Regions from separate parts of the Homo sapiens genome. Here all the other regions are linked to region 1. The links come from fine-mapping of genetic effects on plasma protein levels. A gene starts in region 1. Each other region holds a variant in brackets. All regions are shown on one strand. Distances are from middle to middle. Region 1 holds the start of ANPEP (alanyl aminopeptidase, membrane). Region 2 overlaps ARPIN-AP3S2 (ARPIN-AP3S2 readthrough). Region 3 overlaps ANPEP (alanyl aminopeptidase, membrane). Region 4 overlaps ANPEP (alanyl aminopeptidase, membrane). Region 5 overlaps ANPEP (alanyl aminopeptidase, membrane).

The links. PIP is the posterior inclusion probability: the model's chance that the variant is causal. Protein levels are from antibody-based Olink assays in UK Biobank. Linkage for the fine-mapping came from a reference panel and not from the study's own genotypes, which makes the PIPs less certain.
Region 2: its variant is fine-mapped to the plasma level of the ANPEP protein (UK Biobank, PIP above 0.99).
Region 3: its variant is fine-mapped to the plasma level of the ANPEP protein (UK Biobank, PIP above 0.99).
Region 4: its variant is fine-mapped to the plasma level of the ANPEP protein (UK Biobank, PIP 0.99).
Region 5: its variant is fine-mapped to the plasma level of the ANPEP protein (UK Biobank, PIP 0.99).

What each region holds. Positions count from the first base shown.
Region 1 is chr15:89,811,906-89,818,177 of GRCh38, reverse strand. ANPEP (alanyl aminopeptidase, membrane) reads left to right here and starts at 3,326. Exons shown (of 21, transcript NM_001150.3): 1 at 3,326-3,406. RefSeq lists cis regulatory regions at 2,943-2,945, 2,963-2,992, 2,991-2,994, 2,902-3,030, 3,282-3,287, promoters at 2,902-3,390, 2,236-3,390 and an enhancer at 3,258-3,757.
Region 2 is chr15:89,852,994-89,859,265 of GRCh38, reverse strand. The region is part of intron 8 of ARPIN-AP3S2 (ARPIN-AP3S2 readthrough); the gene reads left to right. All of the region lies in intron 4 of AP3S2 (adaptor related protein complex 3 subunit sigma 2), which reads left to right. Among named protein-coding and RNA genes, the nearest start is that of MIR5094, 5.4 kb to the right of the region's middle. The variant TTTA/A (reference allele first, on the strand shown) is at 3,318.
Region 3 is chr15:89,781,935-89,788,206 of GRCh38, reverse strand. It overlaps ANPEP (alanyl aminopeptidase, membrane), which reads left to right. Exons shown (of 21, transcript NM_001150.3): 21 at 2,706-3,312. The coding sequence ends at 2,858. Among named protein-coding and RNA genes, the nearest start is that of MESP2, 8.7 kb to the right of the region's middle. RefSeq lists enhancers at 3,158-3,820, 3,821-4,482, 4,483-5,145, 6,210-6,269. The variant A/G (reference allele first, on the strand shown) is at 3,133.
Region 4 is chr15:89,798,823-89,805,094 of GRCh38, reverse strand. ANPEP (alanyl aminopeptidase, membrane) reads left to right here. Exons shown (of 21, transcript NM_001150.3): 4 at 1-17; 5 at 478-604; 6 at 688-842; 7 at 1,093-1,206; 8 at 1,305-1,448; 9 at 1,588-1,653; 10 at 1,791-1,856; 11 at 3,488-3,660; 12 at 3,908-3,984; 13 at 5,536-5,669; 14 at 5,780-5,835. Among named protein-coding and RNA genes, the nearest start is that of ANPEP, 13 kb to the left of the region's middle. RefSeq lists an enhancer at 1-1,157. The variant C/T (reference allele first, on the strand shown) is at 2,991.
Region 5 is chr15:89,788,476-89,792,939 of GRCh38, reverse strand. It overlaps ANPEP (alanyl aminopeptidase, membrane), which reads left to right. Exons shown (of 21, transcript NM_001150.3): 17 at 378-488; 18 at 613-780; 19 at 1,847-1,987; 20 at 2,399-2,480. Among named protein-coding and RNA genes, the nearest start is that of MESP2, 14 kb to the right of the region's middle. RefSeq lists an enhancer at 153-653. The variant T/A (reference allele first, on the strand shown) is at 1,341.

The sequences.
Region 1 (6,272 bases):
AAAGCCTTGTGTATTCCTTTCACTTACGTGTGAGCATTATCTGTAGGATAAATTTCTGGAAGTGCCAAGTCAAACAGGACATGTGTTTATATGTTTGATAAATACTGCCCAAATATTCTCTTTTGAGGTCGAGTCAGTCTACACACCAACCAGCAATGCAGGGGGTTGCCTGTTTTCCTCCCACCCTTGCGAATAGTGTGTTACCAAACTTTTTTTTTTTTTTTTGAGACAGGGACTCACTCTATCGCTCTGGCTGGAGTGCAGTGACACGATCATGGCTCACTGCAGCCTTGACTTTTCAGGCTCAAGCAATCCTCCCACCTCATTCTTCCAAGTAGCTGGGACTACAGGCACGTGCCACCACGCCTGGCTAATTTTTTTTTTTTGGTAGAGACAGGGTTTTGCCACGTGGCCCAGGCTGGTCTCGAACACCTGGTTTTAAGTGATTCTCCTGCCTCAGCCTCCCAAAGTGCTGGAATTACAGACATGAGCCACTGTGCCTGACCTACCAAACTGCTTTTTATCTTTGCTGATCTGGTAAGTGAAGAATAGTATCTTTTGTAGTTATAATTTTCATTTTCTTAATAAGTGAGTTATTGAACATCTTTTTACATGTTTATGAGCCCATGAATTTTCTTTCTGCAGGAGCAAGCACTGTCTCTTCATCTTTTTTTTCACAGGGGGTGGACAGAGTCTCTCTCTGTTACCCAGGCTGGAGTGTAGTGGCGCAATCTCGGCTCACTGCAACCTCCACCTCCCGGGTTCAAGCGATTCTCCTGCCTCAACCTCCCCAGTAGCTGGGATTACAGGCACCCACCACCATGCCCACCCAATTTTTGTATTTTTAGTAGAGACAGGGTTTCACTGCATTGGCCAGGCTGGTCTCGAACTCCTGACCTCGTAATCTGCCTGCCTTGGCCTCCCAAAGTGCTGGGATTACAAGCATGAGCCACCACGCCCAGCCCACTTAGGCTATTTCTGATTTTCCAGTATTATAAGTAATACTGCAGTGAAAAGCCTTGCATATAAATATTCTATTTCCTTAGGCTAAATTTATTTATTTTTTTGAGACAGTCTTGCTCTGTAGTCGAGGCTGGAGTGCAGTCATGTGATCTCAGCTCACTGAAGCCTCTGCCTCCCAGGTTCAAGCGATTCTCGTGCCTCAGCCTCCCAAGTAGGTGGGACCACAGGCATGCGCCACCACACCTGGCTGATTTTTGTGTTTTAGTACAGACACAGTTTCACCAGGTTGCCCAGGCTGGCCTTGAATTCCCGACCTCAAGTGATCCACCTGCCTTACAGGCATGAGCCACCACGCCCAGCCTCTTCAGGCTAAATTTCTGAAAGTGATCTTCATTCCTAACCCCAAACTGCCCTCCAGAAAGCTGGGTTGCACTTCTGCCACAGCAGGATCTTTACTCCTCTTAAAATCTCCGCGGAGCCTGGGTGGGAGAGGCAGAGCTCCGGGGGGAAGATTCTCTCCTGGCCTGATGTAGTGTTTTCCTTGGCTTGTCAGACATGGAGGAGATTATGCCAGATATGATAGTGGAGAGAGTCAGACATGCATGAGACTGGAGAGAGAAAAAAAACAAAATAGCCTCTGAGGTCTCACTCACAGCCTACTTACTCTTACTTTACACACAATTCTATATTCCGATATGTTTGTGACCTGGTTTTTAAGAGTACAGAGCAAATTAGGAAGGAGAAGCAAGGCTGCTACCTAGAGGTACCCTGGTCCTCCATGAAGTTTCCAAAAGAAGAGCAAGTGCAAGTAAAATAATAAAACACAGCCAGTCACAAAGCCATCAATTTGGACCATGCAGTGCAAGGCTTTAACTGTCCCAAGGATTCCAATCATGGATAAGGAAGAGCTTAAATTTGATTATAAATCTGAAAGTCTGGAAGTCAGCTTGAATATTGTGGTAGACATAATCATATCCTCCTCCTCAAAAGATGCCCTGGTTCTAATGCCCAGAATCTGTGAATATGTTATGCTACCCCACGAAGGGAAATTACAGTTGCAGGTGGAATTCAAGTTGCCAATCCATTGATTTAAAATAGAAAGATTACCCTGGATTATCTGGGTAGGCCCGATGTAATCACAAAGATGCTCACCAGTGGAAGCAAGAGGCAGAACAGTTGGTGTCAGAGTGACAGATTGTGAGAGACTGGTGGGCCACTGCTGGCTTTGAAGATGGATGGGGCCACCAGCCAAGGAATGTGGGCAGCTTCTAGAAGCCAGAAAAGCCAAAGAAACAGGTTCCCTTCCAGCCTCAAGAAAGCTGTATCCCTCAACCCCCTTGCTTTTAGTCCAGCGAGACCCATTTTGGACTTCTGATTTTACAAAACTTGTAAGATAGTAAATTAGTGTTGTTTTATGTTTGTGTTACGGCAGCCACAGGGAACCAATACAAATATTATCTGGTACCGCCCATTAAAGCTGCTCAGAGACAGGGAGCCCCACCCTGGCGGGGCTCCGGTGGCTGCACAACCTCTGCAAGCAGGATCAAGATGAGAGGCGCAGGCCAGGTGTGGTGGCTCACTCCTGTAATCTCAGCACTTTGGGAGGCCAAGGCGGGCGGATCACTTGAGGTCAGGAGTTCGAGACGAGCCTTACATGGTGAAACCCTGTCTCTACTAAAACTCCAAAAATTAACCAGGCGTGGTGGCGTGCACCTGTAGTCCCAGCTACTCGGGAGGCTGAGGCAGGAGAATCGCTTGAACCCAGGAGGAGGAAGTTGCAGTGAGCGGAGAAAGTGCCACTGCACTCCAGCGTGAGCGACAGAGCGAGACTCTGTCTCAAAAACAAATAAAGGAAAAAGAAAAAAATGAGAAGCGCGTGTTCCCGACTCCGGTGCTTTTTCGCAAGGTCGTGCTACTGCGCCTTCTGAACTACGAGTCCCAGGTACCAAGAAAGTTGAATTGCGTGCTGTGGCGGGTCCGTTATCTGCACCACCCGTCTGCACGGGATGCGCTGGCTTCCTGCCCCGGATGCACAAGGCTCCCTGCGGGACACTCAGGGCGAGGCTCTGAGCCCCTCCCCCGCGGCAGATGCCGTCCAGATGTGGCCGGCGGGTCCCGCGGGCTGCGGCGACAGGGACCCCGTCGGGGGCAGCAGGAGCCCTGGTGCATCCCAGGCCCCGGGGGGAAGGCCGGGCCGTCGGAGGAGCGGAGGAGCCCTGGGGGGCTCCCGGGAAGCCGCGGGCGGACGGGGGAGGAGCCCGGGCGGAGCTGCGGGCGGGCGGCCCGCTAGGGGTGAATCGGGTGGAGTAGTGGTCGGGTCCGGTTACTTCCCTTTAAAAAGACGGGAAAGGAGGAGTCCAGTGCTGGAGGGGCAGGGACGGCGGCGGCGCAGCTCGGAACCCGCCAGGGTCCAGGGTCCAGGTTCCAGCGCCCGGCGGCCCAGGCAAGTGGGGCGGGAGGGCGGGGGCTGCGGGCGCGGGTAGGGGTCGTGGGGCAGTTGGGTGCGCGGGAACCGAGGGAGCTGCAGACCCAGCGCTTGGCGCGTGCGGAGCTGGACTTCTGCGGCCGCGACGCCCCTCTTCCCAGATGGGTAAACTGAGGGCCAGGGAAAGCGAAGAATTCTTTTGGCCGAGCTCCCACTACGATCTCGCGGTCAAGTGGGTCCCCAGCGGGCCTCGCAGGGGTCGGAGGGGCTCCCATCTGGGGAGGGGGCCCCAGGGTGGGCGAGGGCGACGGGAGCCTGGGGAGGACGGACGGGGAGGGCGGCGGAGCGGAGCTAAGCTGCGGCGGGTGGACCCGGCTCGGCCGCGGCCACTCTGTCCCTGGTGGGTGGGGCGCGGCCGAAGGCAAAGGGCGAACCCGGCCCGCCTGTGGGGTCTCTGGCCAACACTGGGCTCAGAGGCCCTTTCTTTAACCTTAGATCTCGCTCCTCGGTCTAAAGCCTCCGCCGCAGCTCTCAGTGAAGAGGAAGGGGAACTCTAGGTGCTCAACGCCCGCGTTACAGTCGCGTTCTCCCTCGCTCCTACAACCCGGCCAAGATGCCGGGGCATGGATGGGGACCGAGGTTTGGGGGTTGTGGAGCCTATTCCACGCCCTCCCTGGTGAGCAACTGAGACAGATCCAGGGCCCCATTGCAATCCACTCTTGGTCTGGGAAAAGGTCCCCTAAACAGGGCCAATGGGATCCTTTCCCCAAATGACTCCAGAACGCACCCCCCCCCCCCAGCAGTGCGGTGGGCAGGGACGGCCCAGGTGGGCTATGTCCTGGGGTTTTGTGACTGGATCCCCACTCCTCCCCCACCTCAGCCCCTGGACTGCAACCCACCAGGCCGTGTTCGGGGGTGGTCAGAGCCCTGGTCTCAGCCAGACCTGAGGTCTGATGTGGCTTCATCCCTGAGTCTCTAAACGCCCTGGCCTTACTGGGCCTCAGTTAATTCACCTGTGAAAGGGGAGGCTTGGACCAGAGGGCCCCTCAGGGTATGTGTTTTGTGGAGGGGAGGTGGGCGTGTGGGGTAGGGGTGACCAGGAGGAAGTGGGGACAGCCTCTGTCCCACAGGAAGGCTGGCTAGCCCCAGTGGGTATGGGGGAGCTGGGCAGGGAAGAGGGTGGACTCCCCTCTCCCTGTGGGAGGGTGTGCTGGGCCCATGAGGCCCTCATCCACTCTCAGCCACCTTCCTGTGGAGCCCTAGCCTCGAAGGCCACACTATGAGTGCAAGGAGGCCACCCACAGCGCTGCTCCCGCTTCACAGGTGGGGAAACCGGCCCAGTGTCTTGAGGCAGCCCAGCCGCCTGCCCTGTGCTTCCCCCAGAGCCTTCTGGGGAATGAGACCTTCGTTACACGCTGGCGCTCCTTACACCCCTACAGCCTTTAAGCTAAGGCCTCCAGCCCCATCGCTGTAAGAATTGTATGCTAGGCATTCTGAGGACATAGATGGGGGTCCCCATGTCGGAAGGAGCCAAGGTGTTGGAACTGGGTCCAGTTCCTGGGCTGGCTCTGGTGGGAGATCTGGAACCCTATGCTGGGGCTCCTGGACAGCCCTGGAGGCATGGCATGGACAGTGTGTCAGCCGCACACCGAGGCCCTGGGGTGTCCTTATTCACATAGGCTGGCAGCCATCTATCCCTAGCCCGGGCTTCACCCCGGGTGCCTGTCACTCCTGGCCCTACAGTGGTCCCAGTCACACCTTGGAGGCAAGATGTGGGTCCTCCACAGGCCTGTGTCTGGAAGCAGCCCCCAGCACTCCCTGGCTAACAAGTTCTACTTCTGAGAACTACCCCCAGCTCCCAGCCCTGGTCTGGCCAAATGGGTGCGTGTCTTCTCCTGTGGTCTTCAACTCCCCTTGGCACGGCCACAGTAGATGTGAGGGGCTGTATGGGAGGACATTTTTAGGAGGCATATGTAGTTAAGCTGTGGAACCTGCTGCTAACTAGCTGTGTGGCCTTGGGCAAATCACTTAACCTTTCTGTGCCTCAGTGTCCTCATTTGCCAAATGGGGGTGATTATCCTGGTAGGGCACATAGTAGGTGCTCAGTTTCACCTACCATGTGTCTCACCAGGATAATCACCCCCCATTTGGCAGACAGGAGTTGCCAGGCAGGATCTGTGGCCCCACACAAACCCTATGTGTACTTCCCCCACCCACAAATGCCTCTGCTCCTTCCTCCTGTGTGCCCTGCATTGGGCTGAAGAGGCTGATGAGAGGCAACTTCCCATTGGGGCCTTCTGAGGTTCTTGCAGGAGGGGCAATGTCCAAGGCTCCCAGAGGAAGCACCCTGGGGTGATGCAGCTATGGGCGGAGGCCTCAGAAGCCTGGGAGAAAGCCAGGGGCCTGCGGGGACAGAGTGTGCCCTGGCCCAGGCCCAGCCTCGTCCCTACCCTTCTCGCTCACTGCTCCCTCAGAGCAGACAATGAGCCCCAGGTTGTCCCTGAGCTCCCAGTCTCATAGTTCACAGTCAGGGACACTGAGTGGGAGTGGGTGGGGCCTACCCAAGGACCCAGTGGTCGGGGATGGAGCATGGATAACACAGCAGCTCACCCGGCCACGGGTGCTCAGCTCTCCCGGCCACAGCCCCTCCCAGGCTCCTGGAGTCTTCATATTAGAGTAGAAAGCCTCTTGCACTTCACATCTGAGACCAAGGAGCCTCTCCCCACCCACAAGTGTGGGTGTCTTCCACACTGTGACTGTGACTTAGTTATGCCCTGGCATGATCGTTGTCAACCTTCATGTTTTTTGGTTTTGGCTTTGGTTTTAGTTTAGAAGAACTTACGTTTTCTGGACTAAAACATAGGCAGGGAAGAAATACATAAAC
Region 2 (6,272 bases), 41 kb before region 1:
AAAAAGGAAGGAAGGAGGGAAAAAGAAAGAAAGAAGGAAAGAAAGAAAGAGAAAGGAAGCAAGGAGAGAGGGAAGGAAGGAAGAAAGGAAGGAAGGAAGGACACTTGGGCTGGTTGTGGAGGCTCACGACGATAATCCCCAGCACTTTGGGAGGCTGAGGCGAGAGGATCACTTGAGCCCAGGAGTTTGAGAACAGCCTGAGCAATAAGTGAGACCCCATCTCTTTAAGTAAAAAAGAAAAAAAAAAAGAAAAAAACAAAAGCAAGGATTGTTCCAGACTATACTGAATATCTGCTGCCATATACACACTCGCTTTCCTTACTTGAACTTTGGATTGCCTCAGTGCACAATCTCATTGATTACCTGCTGCTTCAAGTTTGGTGTGTTAGTCATTCCTTATTACTGGTTAGTAGAATAACAGTGTACACAAAACAGCACAATTTGACCTTTAGAGATATTCATTTGATATGCAGCCGTTTTCAGTAAAACCTAGTGTTTGTCAAGGTTGTAGTCAGTAAACAAAGCTTATTACCCATGGTATTACTTGGATATGTTGCAGATAAAACGAATTGTATTTTGCTTTGGTTGCTGATTTATAGGCACCCTGAAAGGCTGGAATTGAGATTCAATTTTATTGTTCTTGCTATTATTCCTTATATTGCAGAAGAGGATTAGCCTACTCTAAGATAAGAAGTAGAGTTTCTCTTTCTTTCTTTCTTTCTTTCTTTCTTTCTTTCTTTCTCTCTCTCTCTCTCTCTCTCTCTCTCTCTCTTTCTTTCTTTCTTTCTTTCTTTCTTTCTTTCTTTCTTTTTCTTTCTTTTTTTGAGATGGAGTTTCGCTCTTGTTGCCCAGGTTGGAGTGCAATGACGTGATCTCGGCTCACTGCAACCTCCACCTCCTGGGTTCAAGCAATTCTCCTGCATCAGCCTCCTGCCTAGCTGGGATTATAGGCGTGCGCCACCACACCCGGCTAGTTTTGTATTTTTTTTTAGTAGAGACGGAGTTTCTCTATGTTGATCAGGCTGGTCTCAAACTCCCAACCTCAGGTGATCCGCCTGTCTCAGCCTCCCAAAGTGCTGGGATTGCAGGTGTGAGCCACCACACCCAGCAAAGCAGAATCTCTTGATTCCTAACTAAGAACCCTTTTCCAGGCTTGATTTTTGTATCAATCAAGGTAGGCTAGGTAATGCATTACTCCAAAATCCCAATGGCTTATGAGAGCAAGGTTTATTTTTTCACTCGTGCTATGTGGCCATTGTGGTGTGTCTGCTGACTGTAGTTCCTCTGAGGTCCAGGCTGATGGAAATCTCCTCAACATATGCTTCTACCTGGGCATGTGTGTGTTCCGGCTCTTGAAGTGACACATCCTCGTACACTCACATTTCAGTGATCAAAATCAGTCACATGCTCCCACCCAAGGGATGGGGAAATGATCCTATTATGTGCCCAAGAGGGAGGAGAACCTGAACTAGTTGAATATTACCAATGATGACCATGGTTTTTTCATGGATTTTCTTAGAGGAAAAGTTAATGTTTGATTTTTATTATCACTTTGTAGAAGGGAAGCTAGAAATTTTAGTAACAGAAAAATAGAGGAGTGCTCTAATAAGAAGAAAACATGGTTGAATCTTAGGAAAGGTATCCCACATGGCAGCTTTTCAGTTTCTCTGATTATTGGGCATTTATATCTTCTATACTTCCCAAATGAATTTAAGATGACTTAAAATAAAATTTCTTAACAGAATAAATGGTTTTTATATGTGGGAGGCGAGTGCCTCCCTCCTTAGAGGCTTTCTGCAAATCATTTGTCTTTACCTTGGCTCTCTGACCTTGATGAAGTACTGATGTCTGAGAGTGTTTTTGTCTTTTCTCTGATTACCAAACAACAATCATTTATTAAGCATTCATTAGGAAAAAGACACTGCGCTAAATATAGAGATACAAAGATATAAAACTCAAATTTTCTACCTGTAAGAAGCTCATAAACTAGGCACGGTGGCTCACACCTGTAATCCCAGCACTTTGGGAGGCCGAGGTGGATGGATCACTTGAGGTCAGGAGTTCAAGACCAGCCTGACCAACATGTTGAAACCCTGTCTCTCCTCCACCGTGCCCAGCCCCAGCCCAGTTTTTACTTTTGATGAAGCTTTCTCTAAACTTCGGTATTGTAGTTCTCCAAACTGTTTGTCTTCTTGCTCATGCTCTCAAGTTTTTAATTCTAACTGTTTCTAGTAGATTGTAAACGCCTTTGGAATAGTGTCAGTATGTAATACTTTGTTGGTTATCCAAACAATACAGGACAGTCAGAGTTGATTAGTTGATGTGAAATAGATATGTGTCCCAATTTTGTGGGTTTCTTTTTCTTTTCTTTTCTTTTCTTTTTTTTTTTTTTTAAGACAGAGTCTTACTCTGTTGCCCAGGCTGGAGTGCAGTGGCATGATCTTGGCTCACTGTAACCTCTGCCTCCCGGGTTTAAGCAATTCTCATGCCTCAGCCTCCTGAGTAGCTGGGACTACAGGTGCGCACCACCACGCCCAGCGAATATTTTTTTTTTTTTTTTTTTTGAGATGGAGTCTCACTCTGTCATCCAGGCTGGAGTGCAGTGGTGTGATCTTGGCTCACTGCAATCTCTGCCTCCTGGATTCAAGCAATTCTCCTGCCTCAGCCTTCCGAGTAGCTGGGATTACAGGTGCGCACCACCATGCCTGGCTAATTTTTTGTATTTTTTTAGTAGAGACGGGGTTGCACCATCTTGGCCAGGCTAGTCTTGAACTTCTGACCTCATGCTCTGTCCACCTCGGCCTCCCAAAGTGCTGGGATTACAGGCGTGAGCCACCACGCCCAGCCCTAATTTTTGTATTTTTTAGTAGAGACAGGGTTTCGCCATGTTGGCCAACCTGGTCTCAAATTCCTGACCTCGAGTGATCCATCCTCCTCAGCCTCCCAAAGTGCTAGGATTACAGGCGTGAGCCACTGCACCCAGCCAAGGCCCATTTTTTAAAACCAAATTCTAATTAGACCTTGCCTTTGAAGGTTATGACTTGTGCATACTGGCTAGTTTCGGGGTGGGCTCACTTTTCACTTTGCCTTTGCTCCCTTGGGAGATAACCTCTGGGTGCACTCAGGAGGAACTAGGAACCCTGTGTTCCTCAAGTGGGATTCTGCATGAATTGCCTTTGTGGGCTTCTGACTCTACCAGATTCTAACTGTGTAATTTATGCAACCCTCTTAAAGACCTCTTTGTGCCTCAGTTTTCTTCAGTTGTAAAACAGGGATGATATCACATTTCATTGATTCTTTTTTTTTTTTTTTTTTTT[TTTA/A]AAGGACATATCATATTTATTCATACACATGCTGGAATTATTGGTGCAGACATTTAAATACATTTTCTTTGAGAAAGTCCTTTTTTTTTTTTTTTCTGATGGAGTTTCCCTCTTGTTGCCCAGGCTGGAGTGCAATGGTGCAATCTCAGCTCACAACAACCTCTGCCTCCTGGGTTCAAGCAATTCTCCTGCCTCAGCCTCCCAAGTAGCTGGGATTACAGGCATGCACCACCACGCCCAGCTAATTTTTTTTATTTTTAGTAGAGACGGGGTTTCTCCGTGTTGGTCAGGCTGGTCTTGAACTCCTGATCTCAGGTGATCTGCCCGCCTTGGCCTGCCACAGTGCTGGGATTACAGTCGTGAGCCACCACAGCTGGCCTGGGAAAGTCCATTCTTTTTTTTTTTTTTTAATTTATTCTTTTATTGATAATTCTTGGGTGTTTCTCACAGAGGGGGATTTGGCAGGGTCATGGGACAATAGTGGAGGGAAGGTCAGCAGATAAACAAGTGAACAAAGGTCTCTGGTTTTCCTAGGCAGAGGACCCTGTGGCCTTCCGCAGTGTTTGTGTCCCTGATTACTTGAGATTAGGGATTGGTGATGACTCTTAACGCGCATGCTGCCTTCAAGCATCTGTTTAACAAAGCACATCTTGCACCGCCCTTAATCCATTTAACCCTGAGTGGACACAGCACATGTTTCAGAGAGCACAGGGTTGGGGGTAAGGTCACAGATCAACAGGATCCCAAGGCAGAGGAATTTTTCTTAGTGCAGAACAAAATGAAAAGTCTCCCATGTCTACTTCTTTCTACACAGACACGGCAACCATCCGATTTCTCAATCTTTTCCCCACCTTTCCCGCCTTTCTGTTCCACAAAGCCGTCATTGTCATCCTGGCCCGTTCTCAATGAGCTGTTGGGCACACCTCCCAGACGGGGTGGTGGCCGGGCAGAGGGGCTCCTCACTTCCCAGTAGGGGCGGCCGGGCAGAGGTGCCCCTCACCTCCCGGACGGGGCGGCTGGCCGGGCAGGGGGGCCAACCCCCCCCCCCCCCACCTCCCTCCCGGACGGGGCGGCTGGCCGGGCGGGGGGCCGACCCCCCCACCTCCCTCCCGGACGGGGCGGCTGGCCGGGCGGGGGGCCGACCCCCCCACCTCCCTCCCGGACGGGGCGGCTGGCCGGGCGGGGGGCCGACCCCCCCACCTCCCTCCCGGACGGGGCGGCTGGCCGGGCGGGGGGCCGACCCCCCCACCTCCCTCCCGGACGGGGCGGCTGGCCGGGCAGAGGGGCTCCTCACTTCCCAGTAGGGGCGGCCGGGCAGAGGCGCCCCTCACCTCCCGGACAGGGCGGCTGGCTGGGCGGGGGTGCTGACCCCCCCCACCTCCCTCCCGGACGGGGCGGCTGGCCGGGCGGGGGGCTGACCCCCCCCACCTCCCTCCCGGACGGGGCGGCTGGCCGGGCAGAGGGGCTCCTCACTTCCCAGTAGGGGCGGCTGGGCAGAGGCGCCCCTCACCTCCCGGACGGGGCGGCTGGCCGGGCGGAGGGCTGACCCCCCCACCTCCCTCCCGGACGGGGCGGCTGGCCAGGCGGGGGGCTGACCCCCCTACCTCCCTCCCGGACGGGGCGGCTGGCCGGGTGGGGGGGCTGACCCCCCCATCTCCCTCCCGGACGGGGTGGCTGGCCGGGCTGAGGGTCTCCTCACTTCCCAGTAGGGCGGCCGGGCAGAGGCGCCCCTCACCTCCCGGACGGGGCGGCTGGCCGGGCGGGGGGCTGACCCCCCCACCTCCCTCCCGGACGGCATGGCTGGCCAGGCGGGGGGCTGACCCCCCCACCTCCCTCCCGGATGGCACGGCTGGCCGGGCGGGGGGGCTGACCCCCCACCTCCCTCCCGGATGGGGCGGCTGGCCGGGCGGGGGGCTGACCCCCCCCCCACGTCCCTCCCGGACGGGGTGGCTGCCGGGCGGAGACGCTCCTCACTTCCCAGATGGGGTGGCTGCCGGGCGGAGAGGCTCCTCACTTCTCAGACGGGGCAGCTGCCGGGCGGAGGGGCTCCTCACTTCTCAGACGGGGTGGTTGCCAGGCAGAGGGTCTCCTCACTTCTCAGACGGGGCGGCCGGGCAGAGACGCTCCTCACCTCCCAGACGGGGTCTCGGCCGGGCAGAGGCGCTCCTCACATCCCAGATGGGGCAGCGGGGCAGAGGCGCTCCCCACATCTCAGACGATGGGCGGCCGGGCAGAGACGCTCCTCACTTCCTAGATGTGATGGCGGCTGGGAAGAGGCGCTCCTCACTTCCTAGATGGGATGGCGGCCGGGCGGAGACGCTCCTCACTTTCCAGACTGGGCAGCCAGGCAGAGGGGCTCCTCACATCCCAGACGATGGGCGGCCAGGCAGAGACACTCCTCACTTCCCAGACGGGGTGGCAGCCCTCATTGATTCTTTAGACTCACTTTTTGGGTACCATTTATAATTTTAACATCTCAAATCAAGATTTTTCTTATAATCAATGGTATGTCATTTTTCTTTTGTAGTAGCACATAAAAATAGTATGTTTTACAATCAGTGAAGTCTTAGATTTGATATAATACAGTAATATCCACCATTCAATTATTTGAGGATCGGAATTAGTGAATAATTGCTTAGTTCAATAAATGGTGAATTTGTCTTTATTTTTACTTTTTTCCTACTAGTCTCTCTGCCTCCTATATTGTGCCTTAAGACTATCCTTTACACACCTTCCTAATGATATATTTAAAAATGTATTTTTTACTAACTCCCTTGCTGATGTATACCCCCAGCTGCAGTGATTCTTAAGGAGAAGGACATGCCTCACTCCCCTCCACCACCTTCCTCAAAACCTTATGATAGTTCAGTGACACTGAGTGATTGAGGGAAGTGTGTTATTTAAGTGAATTTTCATGAATTTTTTTTTAAGTTGGGGACCACTGCCAAAAGG
Region 3 (6,272 bases), 30 kb after region 1:
GGCTGTGATGAATATCATGGACCTTCACGTGCAAATTTTGTACAAACATGTTTTAATTTATCTTGGGTATACACCTAGGAGCGGAATTGCTGGGTCATTTGGTTACTCTGTGTTTAACTTTTTGAGAAACTGACAAAATGTTTTCCAAAGCAACTGTACCATTGTCCATTCCTATTAGCAGTGTATCACATGAGGGTTCTAATTGCTCCATGTCTACACTTATCTCTCTTTCCCTCTTTTTTTAGTATAGTCATCTAGTGGGTAGGAAGTGGTATCATTATGGTTTTCAGTTATATCTCCCTAATGAGTAATGAATGACATGATGTTGAATATTTCATGTGCTTATTGGCCTTATACACATTTGTGTATCTTTGGAGAAATGGGTAAAACTGACTATTTTTCTTTTCGAGAGAGGGTCTTACTATGTTGCCTAGGTTGTCCTTAAATTCCTGGGCTCAAGCAACCCTCCCACTTCAGCCTTCTGAGTAGCTTGGATTACAGGCATGTGCCACTGTGCCCAGTCTTTTGCTATTTTAAAATTGGGTTGTCTTTTTATTGTAAGAGTTCTTTATATATTCTGAATATTAGACCCTTAATCAGAGATAGGGTTTGCAAGTATTTCTCCCATTCTATGGACTGTCTTTTCACTCACTTAATAGGTCTTTTGATACCCAAAATTTTAAATCTTGATGAAATCCTATTTATCTGTTTTTTTTCCCTTTGGTTGCTTATACTTTATGTATCATATCTAAGAAAGTATTGTCTAACCCAAGGTCATGAAGATTTATACCTATTTTTTTATTTCAAAAAAATTTTTCAAACCCACAAAAGACCTGACGATGTTTTTTCTAAGAGTTTTATTGGCCAGGCATGGCGGCTCACGCCTGTAATCCCAGCACTTTGGGAGGCCAAGGCAGGTGGATCATGAGGTCAGGAGTTCAAGACCAGCCTGGCCAAGATGGTGAAACCCCGTCCCTACTAAAAAATACGAAAATTAGCTGGATGCAGTGGCGGGCGCCTGTAATCCCAGCTACTCGGGAGGCTGAGGCAGGAGAATTGCTTGAACCCGGGAGGCGGAGTTTGCAGTGAGCTGAGATCGCACCACTGCACTCTAGCCTGGATGACAGAGCAAGACTCTGCCTCAAAAAAAAAAAAAAAAAAAAAAAGAGTTTTATTATGTTTTCACTCAAACGTAGGCATTTGATCTATTTTGACTTAATATTTGTATATGATATGAGGTTGGGGTCCAACTTCATTCCTTTTGCATGTGGATATCCGGTTGTCCAAGTCCCATTTGTTGAAAAGACTGTTCTTCTCCCACTGAATGGTCTTGGCAACCTAGTTGAAAATCAATTGACGGTAAATATAAGGGTTTGTTTTTGGATTCTCAATTCTATTTCATTCATCTATATTTGCATCCTTATGCCTGTACCATACTGTCCTGATTACTATAGTTTTGTAGTGAGTTTTAAAATTGGGAAGTGTGAGTCCTCCAATTTGCTTTTTTTTTTTTTGAGAAAGGGTCTCACTCTGTCACCCAGGCTGGAGTACAGTGGTGAGATCACAGCTCACTGCAGCCTCAACTTCCCAGGCTCAGGTGATCCCCCCACCTCAACCTCCTGAGTAGTTGGGACTATAGGCACATGCCACCATGCCCGGCTAATGTTCTGTATTTTTCTGCAGAGACAGGGTTTCACCATCTTGCCCAGGCTGGCCAACTGTGTTCTTTTTCAATATTGTTTTGGCTATTCTGGGTCCCTTGCAATTTCTTATGCATTTTAGGATCACTGATCAATTTCCGCAAAAAAAAAAAAAAAAAAGTAGTTAAAATTTTGATGGGATTGAATCTCTAGAGCAATATGGGGACTATTGCCATCTTAATGATGCTAAATCTTCCAGTCCATGGACACAGATTTATTTGGGTCTTTTTTCTTTTTACTTAGGTGTTCTTTAATTTCTTTCAAAAATGTTTTGTAGTTTTTGGCATTCCAGTCTTGCACTTATTTTGTCAAATTTATTCCTAAATATTTTATTCTTGTTGATGCTATCGTAAATGGAATTGTTTTCTTAATTTCATTTTCAGGTTTTTCATTGCTAATGTATGGGAATACAATTGATATTTGTGTATTGCTCTTGTATCCTGCAACCTTGCAGAAATCATTAGTTCTAATAGATTTTTTAATGGATTCCTTAAAATTTTTATGTATGCAAACATGTCATACACATAGTTTTACTTCTTCCTTTCTGGATTCCTTTCATTTCATTCTCTTGGCTGATTGCCTGGCTAGAACCTCCAGGACTGATAACTCTTCTAATTTGTAGGAGTATTTTTTTTTTAAACCCATTTATTTACTGAAGCAACTGGATCATTTGTGGTATAGAAATTTCCACATTTTAGATTTGGCTGGTTGCTTCATTAGCCCCTCTCTACTCTCTTGATTGGATTGATATTATAATAAAATATTACACCTGAAGGCCAGAATCTCCCTGAGCCAGGTTTTGCCTGGGATTGTCATTTTGCAACCTCTGTGTTCACAAGGACTTTGCCCGGGAGCAAGGTGGACGTCCTGCCTATCCCTGGAACAGGGTGTGGTCCCATCCATGGGGACTCTAAAGTGGGAGTGGAAAGCCAGAGGCCTGAGAGAGCTCCTCCTCAAGGCTGTTAGGGACCCAGCCGGACTGAGAATCTTTTGTTTTTCTGGCAGCTGGAGCAGTTCAAGAAGGACAACGAGGAAACAGGCTTCGGCTCAGGCACCCGGGCCCTGGAGCAAGCCCTGGAGAAGACGAAAGCCAACATCAAGTGGGTGAAGGAGAACAAGGAGGTGGTGCTCCAGTGGTTCACAGAAAACAGCAAATAGTCCCCAGCCCTTGAAGTCACCCGGCCCCCATGCAAGGTGCCCACATGTGTCCATCCCAGCGGCTGGTGCAGGGCCTCCATTCCTGGAGCCCGAGGCACCAGTGTCCTCCCCTCAAGGACAAAGTCTCCAGCCCACGTTCTCTCTGCCTGTGAGCCAGTCTAGTTCCTGATGACCCAGGCTGCCTGAGCACCTCCCAGCCCCTGCCCCTCATGCCAACCCCGCCCTAGGCCTGGCATGGCACCTGTCGCCCAGTGCCCTGGGGCTGATCTCAGGG[A/G]AGCCCAGCTCCAGGGCCAGATGAGCAGAAGCTCTCGATGGACAATGAACGGCCTTGCTGGGGGCCGCCCTGTACCCTCTTTCACCTTTCCCTAAAGACCCTAAATCTGAGGAATCAACAGGGCAGCAGATCTGTATATTTTTTTCTAAGAGAAAATGTAAATAAAGGATTTCTAGATGAGTGAGACTCATTACTAAACTAAAGCAGGAGTGGGTCAATACAGCAGCTGGGGAGGCCGGGTGGGGGAAGCTGGGTGCATGCGGAGCACCGTGGAGTCTGGGACCCCAGAGCACAGGAGGGGAGACGTGCCCAGCCTGCCGGCCCTTCCTGCAGGTGCCCTGCGCCTGTGCCTCCATGTCTGCCTGCAGGACTCCGGGCTCCTTTTCATGCTCTATTGACTGAGCTAGCTGGGTGGTTTGCAGGGCTCCTTTTATTCCTATTCTGATGGCAGCTGGAGCTGCTGGGTGGTGGGGAGCTGTGGACCCAGTGCTCCCGCAGTGAGTGGTGAGAGGGGCCCTGGCAGAGCGCAGGGAGTGCTCTCCAGGAAGCACCCTCCTTAACATGAGGCAAGGGTGCAGGGTGCTGGCCGTGCCCCTCTTCCTGCTCCACGGGAACACCTGGGATACCTGGGACAATGCGGGACAGGTCTGTGCAGTGAAGGCAGCAAGCACAGGGTCCCATACCTGGTGCCACCCTTCACTGGCCAAGGGCACGCCCCACCGTCTTCCGTGGTGGAAGGGTGGAGTGGGGTGTGGGTACCAATGCATAAAGAGGTTGTTTTCTAGAGCAGCACACAGGGATGGGCTGGGCTGAGGAGCAGGCAAACCATGGGGTGGGGACAGCTTTGCCAGGCTCATAAAGTGGGGGCTGTGCCCTCCACATCGCCTGGGGCAGAAGATGGTCAGGGCCAACTCTGAGAAGGCCTGGGACCAGCGCAGCTCCACGCACACATTGGCCCTGGTGAGCATTTCTTGACAAATGGAGCCCCACTGTGGCAGGCTCCCCTCAGCCTCTGCCCCGCAAGGCCCAGTTGAACATCCAAGGCTGAGAGGAGGGGGAGAAGGCGGGAACAGCCACAGGGGTCCTTAGGAGTCACCTCCAACAGACACCCACAGCCAGCTCCGCAGGCTGGAATCATGGAGTCCAGCAGGTCTGGTTTCAGTTTCTTAGACAAGGGACCCACATGCCCAAGCCTAGGTCTCATCTGCACAACGAGGCAGTGTCAGAGCTGTTGGGCTGGTGTGTGGATTGAAGGAGATACATGTACTTAGCAAATGGCCTGACGCATAAGGAGAGCTGGGTTTTATTATCACCCTTGGCCCTCTTCCCCCTTGTGAGAAGCAGGCAGGCCTGGGGCCAGGAAGGCCCCCCATCCCCCACCACCATCTGCACATCAAAGAGTAGGGTGAGCTAAGGGCGGAGGCCAGCCCGGATGATGGTGCTCTGTCCCTCCACCAGCCAGGAGGCTCCCTGGGCCGCCCCAGATTAAGCTCCGCCAGCCACTTTGGGCCAACCCTTCCTGTCGCCAGTACCCAGCGGCCGTGGCTGGCACTTGACCTTCTGGGGACCAGCTGTGGGAGGGGCCGGCCTCACCATCTTGAGTTTCTAATGGGCTCTAGGATCCCTGGACATTGCAGAGGAGAGAGCTGGCCTGCCAGGGAGAAGAGTTTATGCACATTATTTCATTTAGTTCTAAACCGTACCATGAGATAAGGAATATCTTTATGTCAGCTTTACAGATAAGGAAACTGCAGGGCAAGGAGATGAAGTCACAACTCAGTAGAACTGAACTGGAACCACTGTCTGGCTTTACTCCCTGCACAGAAGTGGAAGCCAGTTCTCCATCTGGAGCTGGGGTGGAGTGCGTGACGTCTATACTGCCATGCTTGTGCCGTTACTGGAAAGAGGTCTCGATCCTTGGAGCCCATGCAAGAAAGAATTCAGGGCAAGTCCATAAAATGAAAGCAAGTTATTAAGAAAGGAAAGGAATCAAAGAATGGCTACTACACAGGCAGGGCAGCAGCATGGGCTGCTCAACTGAGTAAACTTAAGAGCTATTTCTTGATTTTTTTTTTCTTTTTTTTTTGAGACGGAGTTTCATTCTTGTTGCCCAGGCTGGAGTGCAATGGTGCGATCTTGGCTCACCACAACCTCCGCCTCCTGGGTTCAAGCGATTCTCCTGCCTCAGCTTCCCAAGTAGCTGGGATTACAGGCATGCACCACCATGCCCGGCTAATTTTGTATTTTTATTAGAGATGGGGTTTCTCGACCCCAGGAGATCCGCCCACCTCAGCCTCTCAAAGTGCTGGGATCATAGGCGTGAGCCACCGCGCCCAGCCTTATTTCTTGATTATATGCTAAACAAGGGGTGGATTATTCATGAGTTTTTTGGGAAAGAAGTGGGGATTTCCCAGAACTGAGGGTTTCTCCCTTTTTTAGACCATACAGGGTAACTTCTGCATATTGCTGTGGCATTTGTGAACGGTCATACGCTGGTGGGAGTGTCTGTTAGCAGCTAAGGTATTATAATCAGCGCATAATGAGCAGTGAGGATGACCAAAGGTCACTTTTGTCACCATCTTGGTTTTGGCGGGTTTTGGCTGGTTTCTTTACTGCATGCTGTTTTATCAGCAAGGTCTTTGTGACCTGTATCTTATGCCGATCTCCTGTCTCATCCTGTGACTAAGAATGCCTAACCTCCTGGGAATGCAGCCCAGCAGGTCTCAGCCTCATTTTGCCTAGCCCCTATTCAAGATGGAATCGCTCTGGTTCAAACACCTCTGACGATGCCACCTGGCAGTGTACAATGCTGGCACTCATCAGGACCTCCATGGCTGATCCTGGAATGCAGTGAGGATACACAGAGCCAGAGGAATGCCTGCAGAGCCTTGGTCAAGGTCAAAGAGCAGGAACCAACTAGAACTCTGGCGGCTGATTCCCTGCCCAGCGCTCTTGCCTGCCCTCAGCACTCAAGTCCAGCAGGAATGGAAGGTGCTGAGGCTCTGTAGGCAGCAGCCTTGGTGGCTCCTCTGACTCAGCCTTTCGAGACTGTGGAGTCAGCATAGCTAACGCAATCTTTCATTTTCTTTTTCCTTTTTTTGTTTTGTTTTTTTTTTTTTTTGGAGACAGAGTCTCACTCT
Region 4 (6,272 bases), 13 kb after region 1:
CATCCAATGGTGTCTTGGTATGAGGCTGGGCCCATCTCTCCTTCACGTGGGCTGGCCCCGGCTTGAGGGGTCTTCCCGTTCTCTTCATCCCTGTGCCAGTTTCTGAATTGTTAGGCCAGGGTTGGAATCCCACCTCTGAGTGATTTCAGGCAAGTGTCTTGTTCTCTGGTTCTCCATTTCTGCACCTGAAAAATGAAAACAATGGTTTCTCTTCATGAAGGGAGTTCCTGACCCACCGGTTACCAGACAGACGGTGGCTATGATGATTGTTATTCTCCAAAGGCCCTTCTCTAGGACCCACAGCCTCCAGACCCCAGTAGCGTTCCCCTCTGCTGACCAGGCCTCTAGGTTTAGCTTGATTGGCCTCCAGCCCTGGCCCATCAGGGATCCCCCCAGCCCACTGGGCCCTGGGACCCAGCCCACCTGCCCCAGGATCAAACAGGAGCCCCTGGTCTGCTTCTTCCTCACACCTTGCAGATCCGGATCTGGGCCCGGCCCAGTGCCATTGCGGCGGGCCACGGCGATTATGCCCTGAACGTGACGGGCCCCATCCTTAACTTCTTTGCTGGTCATTATGACACACCCTACCCACTCCCAAAATCAGGTGAGTGGGGGTCCTTGAGGAGGGAGGCAGTGGATGGAGCTCCACTCCCGGAGTTCATCCTGCCAATGGCATCGCCTCCCCAGACCAGATTGGCCTGCCAGACTTCAACGCCGGCGCCATGGAGAACTGGGGACTGGTGACCTACCGGGAGAACTCCCTGCTGTTCGACCCCCTGTCCTCCTCCAGCAGCAACAAGGAGCGGGTGGTCACTGTGATTGCTCATGAGCTGGCCCACCAGGTAGACCCCCATCTCGGGGAGTGCGGAGAAGGAAACAGGGGCTCCGAGAGGAGACGGCGCAAGTCCAGGCTCTGCCCCGGGCTGCTGAGAAGGGAGGAGGGTGCCGCCTGGCAGGGCAGCAGGAAGGGGTCACGATGGTGTTGAAATCCCCACTGTGCCTGGCAGATGGCCAGCCCTGGGGAGGGTAGTTCTGGGGATTCTCAGTGCCCAGCCTGGGCGTGGCTTGCCCAGCTGACCCCTCCCCCCACAGTGGTTCGGGAACCTGGTGACCATAGAGTGGTGGAATGACCTGTGGCTGAACGAGGGCTTCGCCTCCTACGTGGAGTACCTGGGTGCTGACTATGCGGAGCCCACCTGGAACTTGGTAAGCCAGCTGCCCAGGGGTCTGGTGCGGGGGGCATGGAGGGAGACCTGGGCCACCGCTACCAGGCCAGTCTCCTGATGGCCCTGGGGAATTTGCAGAAAGACCTCATGGTGCTGAATGATGTGTACCGCGTGATGGCAGTGGATGCACTGGCCTCCTCCCACCCGCTGTCCACACCCGCCTCGGAGATCAACACGCCGGCCCAGATCAGTGAGCTGTTTGACGCCATCTCCTACAGCAAGGTGCAGCCCGCTCCTCGTGGGGCACGGGGAAGGAGGTGGGGACTTGGCCTGGAGGGGCCTCACTGAAGGCAGGGTCTGGGGGCACAGGGTCCTGGTGGCTCTGCACAGCCTTCTGAGCGCCCCCTCACCCCCACCCCAGGGCGCCTCAGTCCTCAGGATGCTCTCCAGCTTCCTGTCCGAGGACGTATTCAAGCAGGGCCTGGCGGTGAGTACTGCACCCTGGGCCAGCCATGAGGGTGGGTCTCCTTCTGCCCCTCGCCCTTGACCCGGGCCTCTGCCCACCACAGAGGGGGAGCCTGGGGGGCTCCAGCTGTGCTCTCACTGTGCCCCGTCTTTCCACAGTCCTACCTCCACACCTTTGCCTACCAGAACACCATCTACCTGAACCTGTGGGACCACCTGCAGGAGGTCAGTAGCAGCCAGCCCCTCCACAGCCATCCTGTTGGGGTCTTGAGATGCTGAAGGTACCTGGGGGCAGCACATGCGTAAGAGAATGGGTCCAGCTCCGCGGCTGACCAGCCCTGCAGGGTGGATGGAGCCTCTGTTGCTCCTCCCTATAGTGGAAGCCGGGATGGCTCCTTGCAAGAGGTGTCTGAGTGAGGCTGTGGTTGAGGTCCTGGCCAGCAGCTGACCTCAGGCTACAGCGGGCTTCTTGATGGGAGCTGTAGAGCCCCTTCCTGGTGGTGAGGAAACTGCCCTCATGGTTCCCGCCTCTGCCTGGAACTCTGGAGCCTGACATTCAACCTTCTCCCCACTCCTGGCTGCCCTGTGCCCCCCGCTGGCGCCACGGGCATGTCTCTGCACACAGCTCCACCACCCTCAGCAGGAACTCTGCCCTCTGCCCCTGCCCCGGCTCGAGTTCCTCTCCATCAGACCCCGCACAGCCCCTGTTTGTAGGGCAGATCCCCAGACTGCCACACCCTCCTGCCTTCCCCCAGAGGCCGCCGCTCCTCTCCCTCCCCCAGGGTTGGAGTCCACCTCCTCTCCATCCTGCCCCCATCATTTCCGCTGACATCATTTCCCTGACAGCTGCCCCCTACCCCTTCCCTGCAGCTCTGCCCAATGCTAGCGTCTTAAGCCAGAGGACAGACATGTCCTCTCCTCACCGACAGCCCCTCCAGAGTTCCGAGCCTCAAATTCCCGTCCAGCTTCTACCCCACTGTTGCTGCTGCACTTCCAGTCCAGGCCTGTCTCACCAGGGAAGCGAGACCCAGGATCTTGTCACAGAGTCACAGCTGAGGTCCGGGTCCCTGCTGGGCAATTTCCAACCCCCTAGACCCCAAGATGCTGCTGACAAAATGACACTGTCATTGCCTGGGTCTCCCCCACTACCTTCCTTGCCCTGCCCCAACTTCCCCTTTGCGTTCCCTCCTAAGCCAAGCTCTCCTCCCTCTCACTCCTCTTTCCTGAGACCCTCGGCCGGCAGCCCCCAGCTGGTTCCTCCCCACATGCTCTTCTGCCCTCTGTGTGGCCCCGTTCTTAGGTGATTCCTTTCTTCAGTTATTAACAAATGGGGTTGGCTTTCTGTTGTGATGACAAAGG[C/T]AAGGCAGGTGCATGAGCAAAGATCCAAGAAGACAAGAAGACAACAACAGTGCCCCTGAGTCCCGCCCCACACCCCAGTCCGAGTGCACTTCCCTCATGCGACCCCCAGGGCCCCGTCCCCCACCCCTGCCTGTGACACCTGAACACTGGCTTTCTCTCATCTCTGTCTCCTCTTTCTTGTCCTCCTCCCAGTGTTGTTCAGGAAGAGCCATGGGCATCCTGGGCACCCCCTCCCTGACATACACACCTCAGGGTGGACCACAGAATGGAGGGCCTCATAGATTTGCTGGGAAGTTCTCCAGCTCGTCCAGCACTGAGCAGCCGAGGAGAGGCAGAGCTGGACGGTACCCTGGCTCCCGGCTCCCAGCCCAGTGCCCTTCCCAGGCCTCCCATACAAGTGGCCCCCCGGGGTCGAGGCGAGAATCTGCAGGAGATGCCCTGGATGGCAGGGACTGGAGGGTCCCACTGATGGCCACGCCCTCTCGCTCCACCCACAGGCTGTGAACAACCGGTCCATCCAACTCCCCACCACCGTGCGGGACATCATGAACCGCTGGACCCTGCAGATGGGCTTCCCGGTCATCACGGTGGATACCAGCACGGGGACCCTTTCCCAGGAGCACTTCCTCCTTGACCCCGATTCCAATGTTACCCGCCCCTCAGAATTCAAGTGAGCAGATGGGGTCACTGAGGCATGGTCAGGTGGGTGGGGTAGAGGGCAGTTACTAAGGGACCATAGTAGGACTGGCCTCCTGTGGTCCCAGCCCCAGCCACTGTAGACAGACCCTCCCTCCAGAGCCAGGAGTTCAGGGGCACTCGGTGCCAGAGCTGGGCAGAAGCTGGGAGCCTGGGCAGCTGCTCCTCACTGGCAGTGACCACACCGCCATCTCTCACCACCTCTGGATCTTTAATTGCAGCTACGTGTGGATTGTGCCCATCACATCCATCAGAGATGGCAGACAGCAGCAGGACTACTGGCTGATAGATGTAAGAGGTAATCCAGCCCTGCCTTATGGGCAGCAGCCCCCACCCCATACTCCTAGCTCCTGGCCCATGTTCTGAGGGCTGTGATGGGCCATTCCATTCAACAAATGGACTTGACTTCTTTGGTTCCAATCTCCACTTTGCTGCTGCTTCGCTGTGTGACTCTGGGCAAGTTACCATCCCGCTCTGGTCTCTAGTTCCTCTTCTATAAAATGAGGCTAAGAGCAATACTCCATTAGTTATGTGAGGATTAAAGGAGAGAATCCTAGGCCAGGCATGGTGGCTCATGCCTGTAATCCCAGCACTTTGGGAGGCCGAGGCGACCTGGGGTCAGGAGTTCGAGACCAGCCTGACAAACATGGAGAAACCCCATTTCTACTAAAAATACAAAATTAGCCAGGTGTGGTGGTGCATGCCTGTAATCCCAGCTACTCTGGAGGCTGGGGCAGGAGAATTGCTTGAACCTGGGAGGCAGAGGTTGCAGTGAGCCAAGATCGCACCATTGCACTCCAGCCTGGGCAACAAGAGCGAAACTCTGTCTCAAAAAAAAAAAAAAAAAAAAAAGGAGAGAATCCACATAAAATGCTTAAAGTAGTGCCTGGCACATGTTATGAGCAGCCCTACTCAGCAAGGCACTGAAGAAGCGAAGGGCATGACAAGTCATCCTTTGCCTTGGCCAAGGCTACAGATGAAGGAAGGCAAGAAGTTGGAGGCATTCTAGTGCTGTGCTGAGTGCTTTCAGAGTGTATGGTTGGGGCTAGTGAGGTATGGGGACATGGAGCAGGGAATAAGGGAGATTCAAGTTCATGGAGAGGTCAGGGAGGGCTTCCCGGAGGAGGTGAGCTGAGTCTTAGAGGAAGAGTAGGAATCAGACAGGCTAATGTGGCAGAGAAAAGAATTCCAGGCAAAGGGAATAGCAAGTGCCAGGGATAGAGGTAGGAGAGAGTGTGGGGACTGAGTGTAGCTAGGGCAGAGGTGTGCCCAAGAGATAAAGCTGGTCCCCAAGGGCCCCAGGGGCTGCAGGAGACAGTGGATGGGGCAGGTGGGAAATGAGCAACCTATTGGCCCTGACCTCTGGCTGCTGAAACAAAGTATGAGAGGAGTGAGGGAGGAGGGGGACCCACAGGGAGGAAGGGGCACTAAGCCCCAGAAAGAGACAGCAGCACTGGGGGTCTGGGTGAATGGGAGGGGAAGGGAGAGGAGGAGCTGCCTGTGGTTCCCACTTGGGTGACAGGTGTGATGGAGTGTGGAGGAGGGCAAGGAGGAGGAACAGCCTGGATTGCTGAGTGTGAGCGGCCTGGCAGCTGGCCTGGCCGTGCAGAGCCTAGGGAGGCAGGGCAGGTTCTGAGGTTTGGGGTGGCATGTCATCTTCATGGGTTGATGGTCTGTGAAGCCACTGGCAGCCCAGTTCCTCATCCCTTCCTTCCCCACCCTTAGCGTCTCCCCAGCAGCTTGAGGGTGAGGTGGTGCCAGGCTGCGGGGGCAGCTGCTCTTGCAAGAGGTCCAGGGGTCAGCCCATGGCCTCTGAGCAGCCCTGCCCAGGTCTCGTCCCTCTCCACAGCCCAGAACGATCTCTTCAGCACATCAGGCAATGAGTGGGTCCTGCTGAACCTCAATGTGACGGGCTATTACCGGGTGAACTACGACGAAGAGAACTGGAGGAAGATTCAGACTCAGCTGCAGAGAGACCACTCGGTGAGTGTCTGCCACCCCTCGCCCTGCCCCCTGCCCCAGGACAGGCACCAGACTGCAAGGCCTGCCACCCACAGCCAACCCATGGTCACATGCTGTGCTTCGCATTCTAGGCCATCCCTGTCATCAATCGGGCACAGATCATTAATGACGCCTTCAACCTGGCCAGGTGAGTGCTCCGCTGCCTGGCTCAGCTGCAGAAGCTCGTGACTTCAGCAAGTCTGAGTCCACAATGAGGGCCCCTGCTCCTCCTGCTGCCCTTCCCATATGCCACGTGCTGTGCCCTGAGCTCCTGTGCTCCCTGGACGTCCCTCCCTGGGTCCCCACACACCCATTTCACAGATGAAGAATGTGACACCTTGCCCGAAGTCACACAGTAGTTCATGACAGCCAGACAGAGGCTTGTCCAACTCCAAAGCCATCCTCTACTCCACAGCACCAAGCTTTTTGTTTTTGTTTTTGTTTGTTTGTTTGTTTGTTTGTTTGTTTTGAGACGGAGTCTCGCTCTGTTGCCCAGGTTGGAGTACAGTGGCGCGATCTCAGCTCACTGCAGCCTCCACCTCCCAGGTTCAAGCGATTCTCTGCCTCAGCCTCCCGAGTTGCTGG
Region 5 (4,464 bases), 24 kb after region 1:
GGGGCACCAGGCAGGGAGAGACCCCCACCCAGGAGCAGGGAGGTCCTGCCCTGAGGCTCCATGTGGCCTGAGGGCCCATCGGACCTCTTTATACAAAGACCCAAACTGAAACTCTAGCTCACCCCACTGGCTTGAGGTTATACAGTTTCTAGGTGTTGAAACTGGGGCTGGAGCCTGTTCCTGCCCTTCTGGGTCACAGGGCTGCTTTGGGGACCAAGGAACCTCAGGCCCAAGGCACAAAGCACATACAGCGGGGGTCAGAGGGCCAGTTAGGCCACAGAGCCTTAGGCAGGGTGCCGGCCTGGGGTTGTGTGTCAAGAGGTGAATCTTGGCTGGAGTTCGCCAGGTGTGCTAACCGCGTGTCACCCCTGGGGCAGGTACAGCGAGGTTAATGCCATCAGCACCGCCTGCTCCAACGGAGTTCCAGAGTGTGAGGAGATGGTCTCTGGCCTTTTCAAGCAGTGGATGGAGAACCCCAATAATAACCCGTGAGTGTCTCCCCTGCGCCTCCTCTGCCAGTCTTCATCTGCCCCCAACAGCCCCGTCCTCAGCAGAACCCTGTCCCACCCTCCCCGCTGCTGTTCCACACCTGACCTCCCTACCCCACACCAGGATCCACCCCAACCTGCGGTCCACCGTCTACTGCAACGCTATCGCCCAGGGCGGGGAGGAGGAGTGGGACTTCGCCTGGGAGCAGTTCCGAAATGCCACACTGGTCAATGAGGCTGACAAGCTCCGGGCAGCCCTGGCCTGCAGCAAAGAGTTGTGGATCCTGAACAGGTGAGTCTTGGCGCAGGGTGGGACTGCGAGAGCCCTCTCCCCACCTGGAGAACCAGGCAGGCCTCCACACTCCTCGCCAGATCCTTCACGTGACCCCCACAGACCTGTTGAGGTGGAGGCAGTATTTCCAAAGTAACCGGTGCAGACTGGAAGCTTTAATAAGTGATAGAGACAAGATATGGACTCAGGTCTGGGTCCATGTCCTCTGTTCCTAGCTGCTGTGGCCTCTTAGCCTTTACCTGACAACAACTCGTCTTCCCTTCTGTCAAAGGCTCTGGTGTAGCTGGACCTGGGTCTTTTCAAACATCCAGCTGGGCACCCCCTCAAGCCCTTGGATGAGGGTCCCCACCTCCCACCATGTGCCTCATATGCCATTACCTGGATGCAGTAAAGAAGAGCCACCCTTGGGCAGGGTGTGGTGGCTCATACCTGTAATCCCAGCACTTTGGAAGACTGAGGTGGATGGATCACCTGAGGTCAGGAGTTCGAGACCAGCCTGGCCAACATGGAGAAACCCCGTCTCTACTAAAAATACTAAAAATACAAAAAAAAAAAAAAAA[T/A]AGGCATGGTGGCACATGCCTGTAATCCCAGCTACCCGGGAGGCTGAGGCAGGAGAATCACTTGAACCTGGCAGGCGAAGGTTACAGTAAGCCCAAATCGCTCCACTGCACTCCAGCCTGGGCGACAGAGTGAGACTCCGTCTCGAAAGAAAAGAAAAGAGAAAAGAAAAGAAAAGAAAAGAAGGGCCACCCTCAGTGTCAAAGACGGGAGTGACCACCCACCTGGTGCCAGGGCTTGGGGCGCTAGGACTCCTTCCTTCATTGATTCATTGTCAAATATTTCTATGTCAGGCATGACACTAGCTTAGCCAGTGACCCTGTGACCCTGCTTAGGTGACTCAGTTTTCCATCTATAGAGGGAAGAAGGACCAAGGGGTCCCTCAGCCCCTGGCAGGCCGAGGGGATGTTGAGAGGATGCAGGCATAGGTGATGTGCGTGGGACAGTCCAAGTTCTCTCCTGAGTCACCTGAATTAGCAGTAGCTGAGACAGCATCTGGCCCTCTTAGGTACCTGAGCTACACCCTGAACCCGGACTTAATCCGGAAGCAGGACGCCACCTCTACCATCATCAGCATTACCAACAACGTCATTGGGCAAGGTCTGGTCTGGGACTTTGTCCAGAGCAACTGGAAGAAGCTTTTTAACGAGTGAGTCTGTGGAATGGGTGTCAGGGACAGCGAGCGCCGAGGCTGGGGCCCCGGGGGGTGGCCTGTGCGGGTAAGACACGCCGGGGGCACTAACCAGAAGTGGACAAAAATCAGCCAAGCCTGGGGGCTAGGGTGGGGCAGGAATGGAAAGACAAGCTGGGGTATGGGCCGTCCCTTTTCCCATTTGGAAGGAAAACGTGGCGTGTGGGCGTATTCTCCAGAAGAGAGGGGAGTGAGGAACTCGGCAGTCAGACCTGTGTTCAAGCTGTGACTCCCCCACATCCTAGTGGGGTCTCCCAGGGCGTGTCATTTCATCTCCTCTATAATCATGGCTCCCTACCCAGTAGGTGTGAGGATGAGCCTCCTTAGTTCCCGGCCTCCCTCACAGTTCACCTCTCTCCCTCCCTGCAGTTATGGTGGTGGCTCGTTCTCCTTCTCCAACCTCATCCAGGCAGTGACACGACGATTCTCCACCGAGTATGAGCTGCAGCAGGTAAGAAGTCATTCCCCAGACCTGGGCTCTGCCTACTTCCTTCCCAGGCCAAAGGGGCACTCCATTCTTCTCCCACGTGGCCCTGAGGGAGCACAGGCTCCACGCCGCCAGGCCTTCCTCATTTACAGAGGAAGCCGAGTAGCCAGACTTTGGAAATGTTGATAATTCAATTTAAAAAATTCATCTTGGGATTTTTGTATAGGCACAAAAGGGAAGAGTGGTATAATGAACCTCCATGTACCCGTTACCCAGGTTCAACAATTATCAACATTTTGCCAGTACTTTTTCCGGGCGGGCAATTTTTAAGCAAATCACTGATCATGTAATTTTACCTCTAAATAATTTAGTCATATGAAAAATAAACGCATTCTTTTATTTTTTTTATTTTTTATTTTTTTTTTGAGATGGAGTCTTGCTCTGTCACCCAGGCTGGAGTGCAGTGGTGCGATCTGGGCTCACTGCAAGCTCCGCCTCCCGGGTTCACGTCATTCTCCTGCCTCAGCTTCCTGAGTAGCTGGGACTACAAGTGCCCGCCACCGCGCCTGGCTAATTTTTTTGTATTTTTAGTAGAGATGGGGTTTCACCATGGTCTCGATCTCCTGACCTCATGATCTGCCTGCCTCGGCCTCCCAAAGTGCTGGGATTACAGGCGTGAGCCACGGCGTCCAGCTTTTTTTTTTTTTTGAGACTGAGTCTCGCTCTGTCATGCAGGCTGGAGTGGTGCAGTGGTATGATCTCGGCTCACTGCAACCTCTGCCTCTGGGGTTCAATCAATTCTCCTGCCTCAGCTTCCCGAGTAGCTGGGATTACAGGCATGCGCCCCCACACCCGGCTAATTTTTGTATTTTTAGTAGAGACGAGGTTTCACCATGTTGGCCAGGCTGGTCTCGAACTCCTGACCTCAAGTGATCCACCCACCTCGGTCTCCCAAAGTGCTGAGATTACAGGTGTGAGCCACTGCGCCCAGCAATAAAGGGATTCTTAAAACATAATCACACTGTCCTTAGCAAACCCAGGAAAATGATTATCTTCTTACTATCATATACCCAAGGCATATTCAAATTTTCTAAGTTGTTTATAAAAGGTCTTTTTACAATTGATATATATGCTTGAATTAGAAGCTTGACAAAGTCAACTTGGATTAAGTTAGTTTGTCTTTTTTAAAAATTGAGATATAATTTGCTGGGCGTGGTGGCTCACACCTGTAGTCCCAGCACTTTAGGAGGCTAAGGTGGGTGGATCACCTGAGGTCGGGAGTTCCAGACCAGCGTGGCCAACATGGTGAAACCCTGTCTCTACTAAAAATACAAAAATTAGCTGGGTGTGGTGGGGGGTGCCTGTAGTCCCAGCTACTCGGGAGGCTGTGGCAGAATAATTGCCTGAATCCAGGAGGCGGAGGTTGCAGTGAACCAAGATTGTGCCACTGCACTCCAGCTTGGGCGACAGAGTGAGACTCTGTCTCAAAAAAAAAAAATTGATATATAATTCATGGACCATCAAACTCACCATTTTAAGTGGTTTTCAGTAAACTAACAAGGTAGGGTGGGTGGGGTGCTTCATGCCTGTAATCCCAGCACTTTGGGAGGCCAACGCAGGAGGATCCCTTGAACCCAGGAGTTTGAGACCAGCCTGGGCAATATCATAAGATCTCATCTCTAAATAAATAAATAAATAAATAAATAAATAAATAAATAAGCTGGGCATGGTGGTGCATACCTGTAGTCCTAGCTACTCAGGAGACTGAGGTGAGAGGATCGCTTGAACCAGGAAGGCAGAGGTTGCAGTGAGCGGAGGTGGTGCCACCGCATTCCAGCCTGGGTGACAGAGCAAGACCCTGTCTCAAAAAACCAAAACCAAACCAAACCAAACAAACAAACAGAAAAAAACCATGTGGTACAACCATCACTACTGTCTAATTCCAGAACATTTTTATTACGCCAAAAAAAAACCTTGTACTCATTAGCAGTCACTCCTTATTCCTACC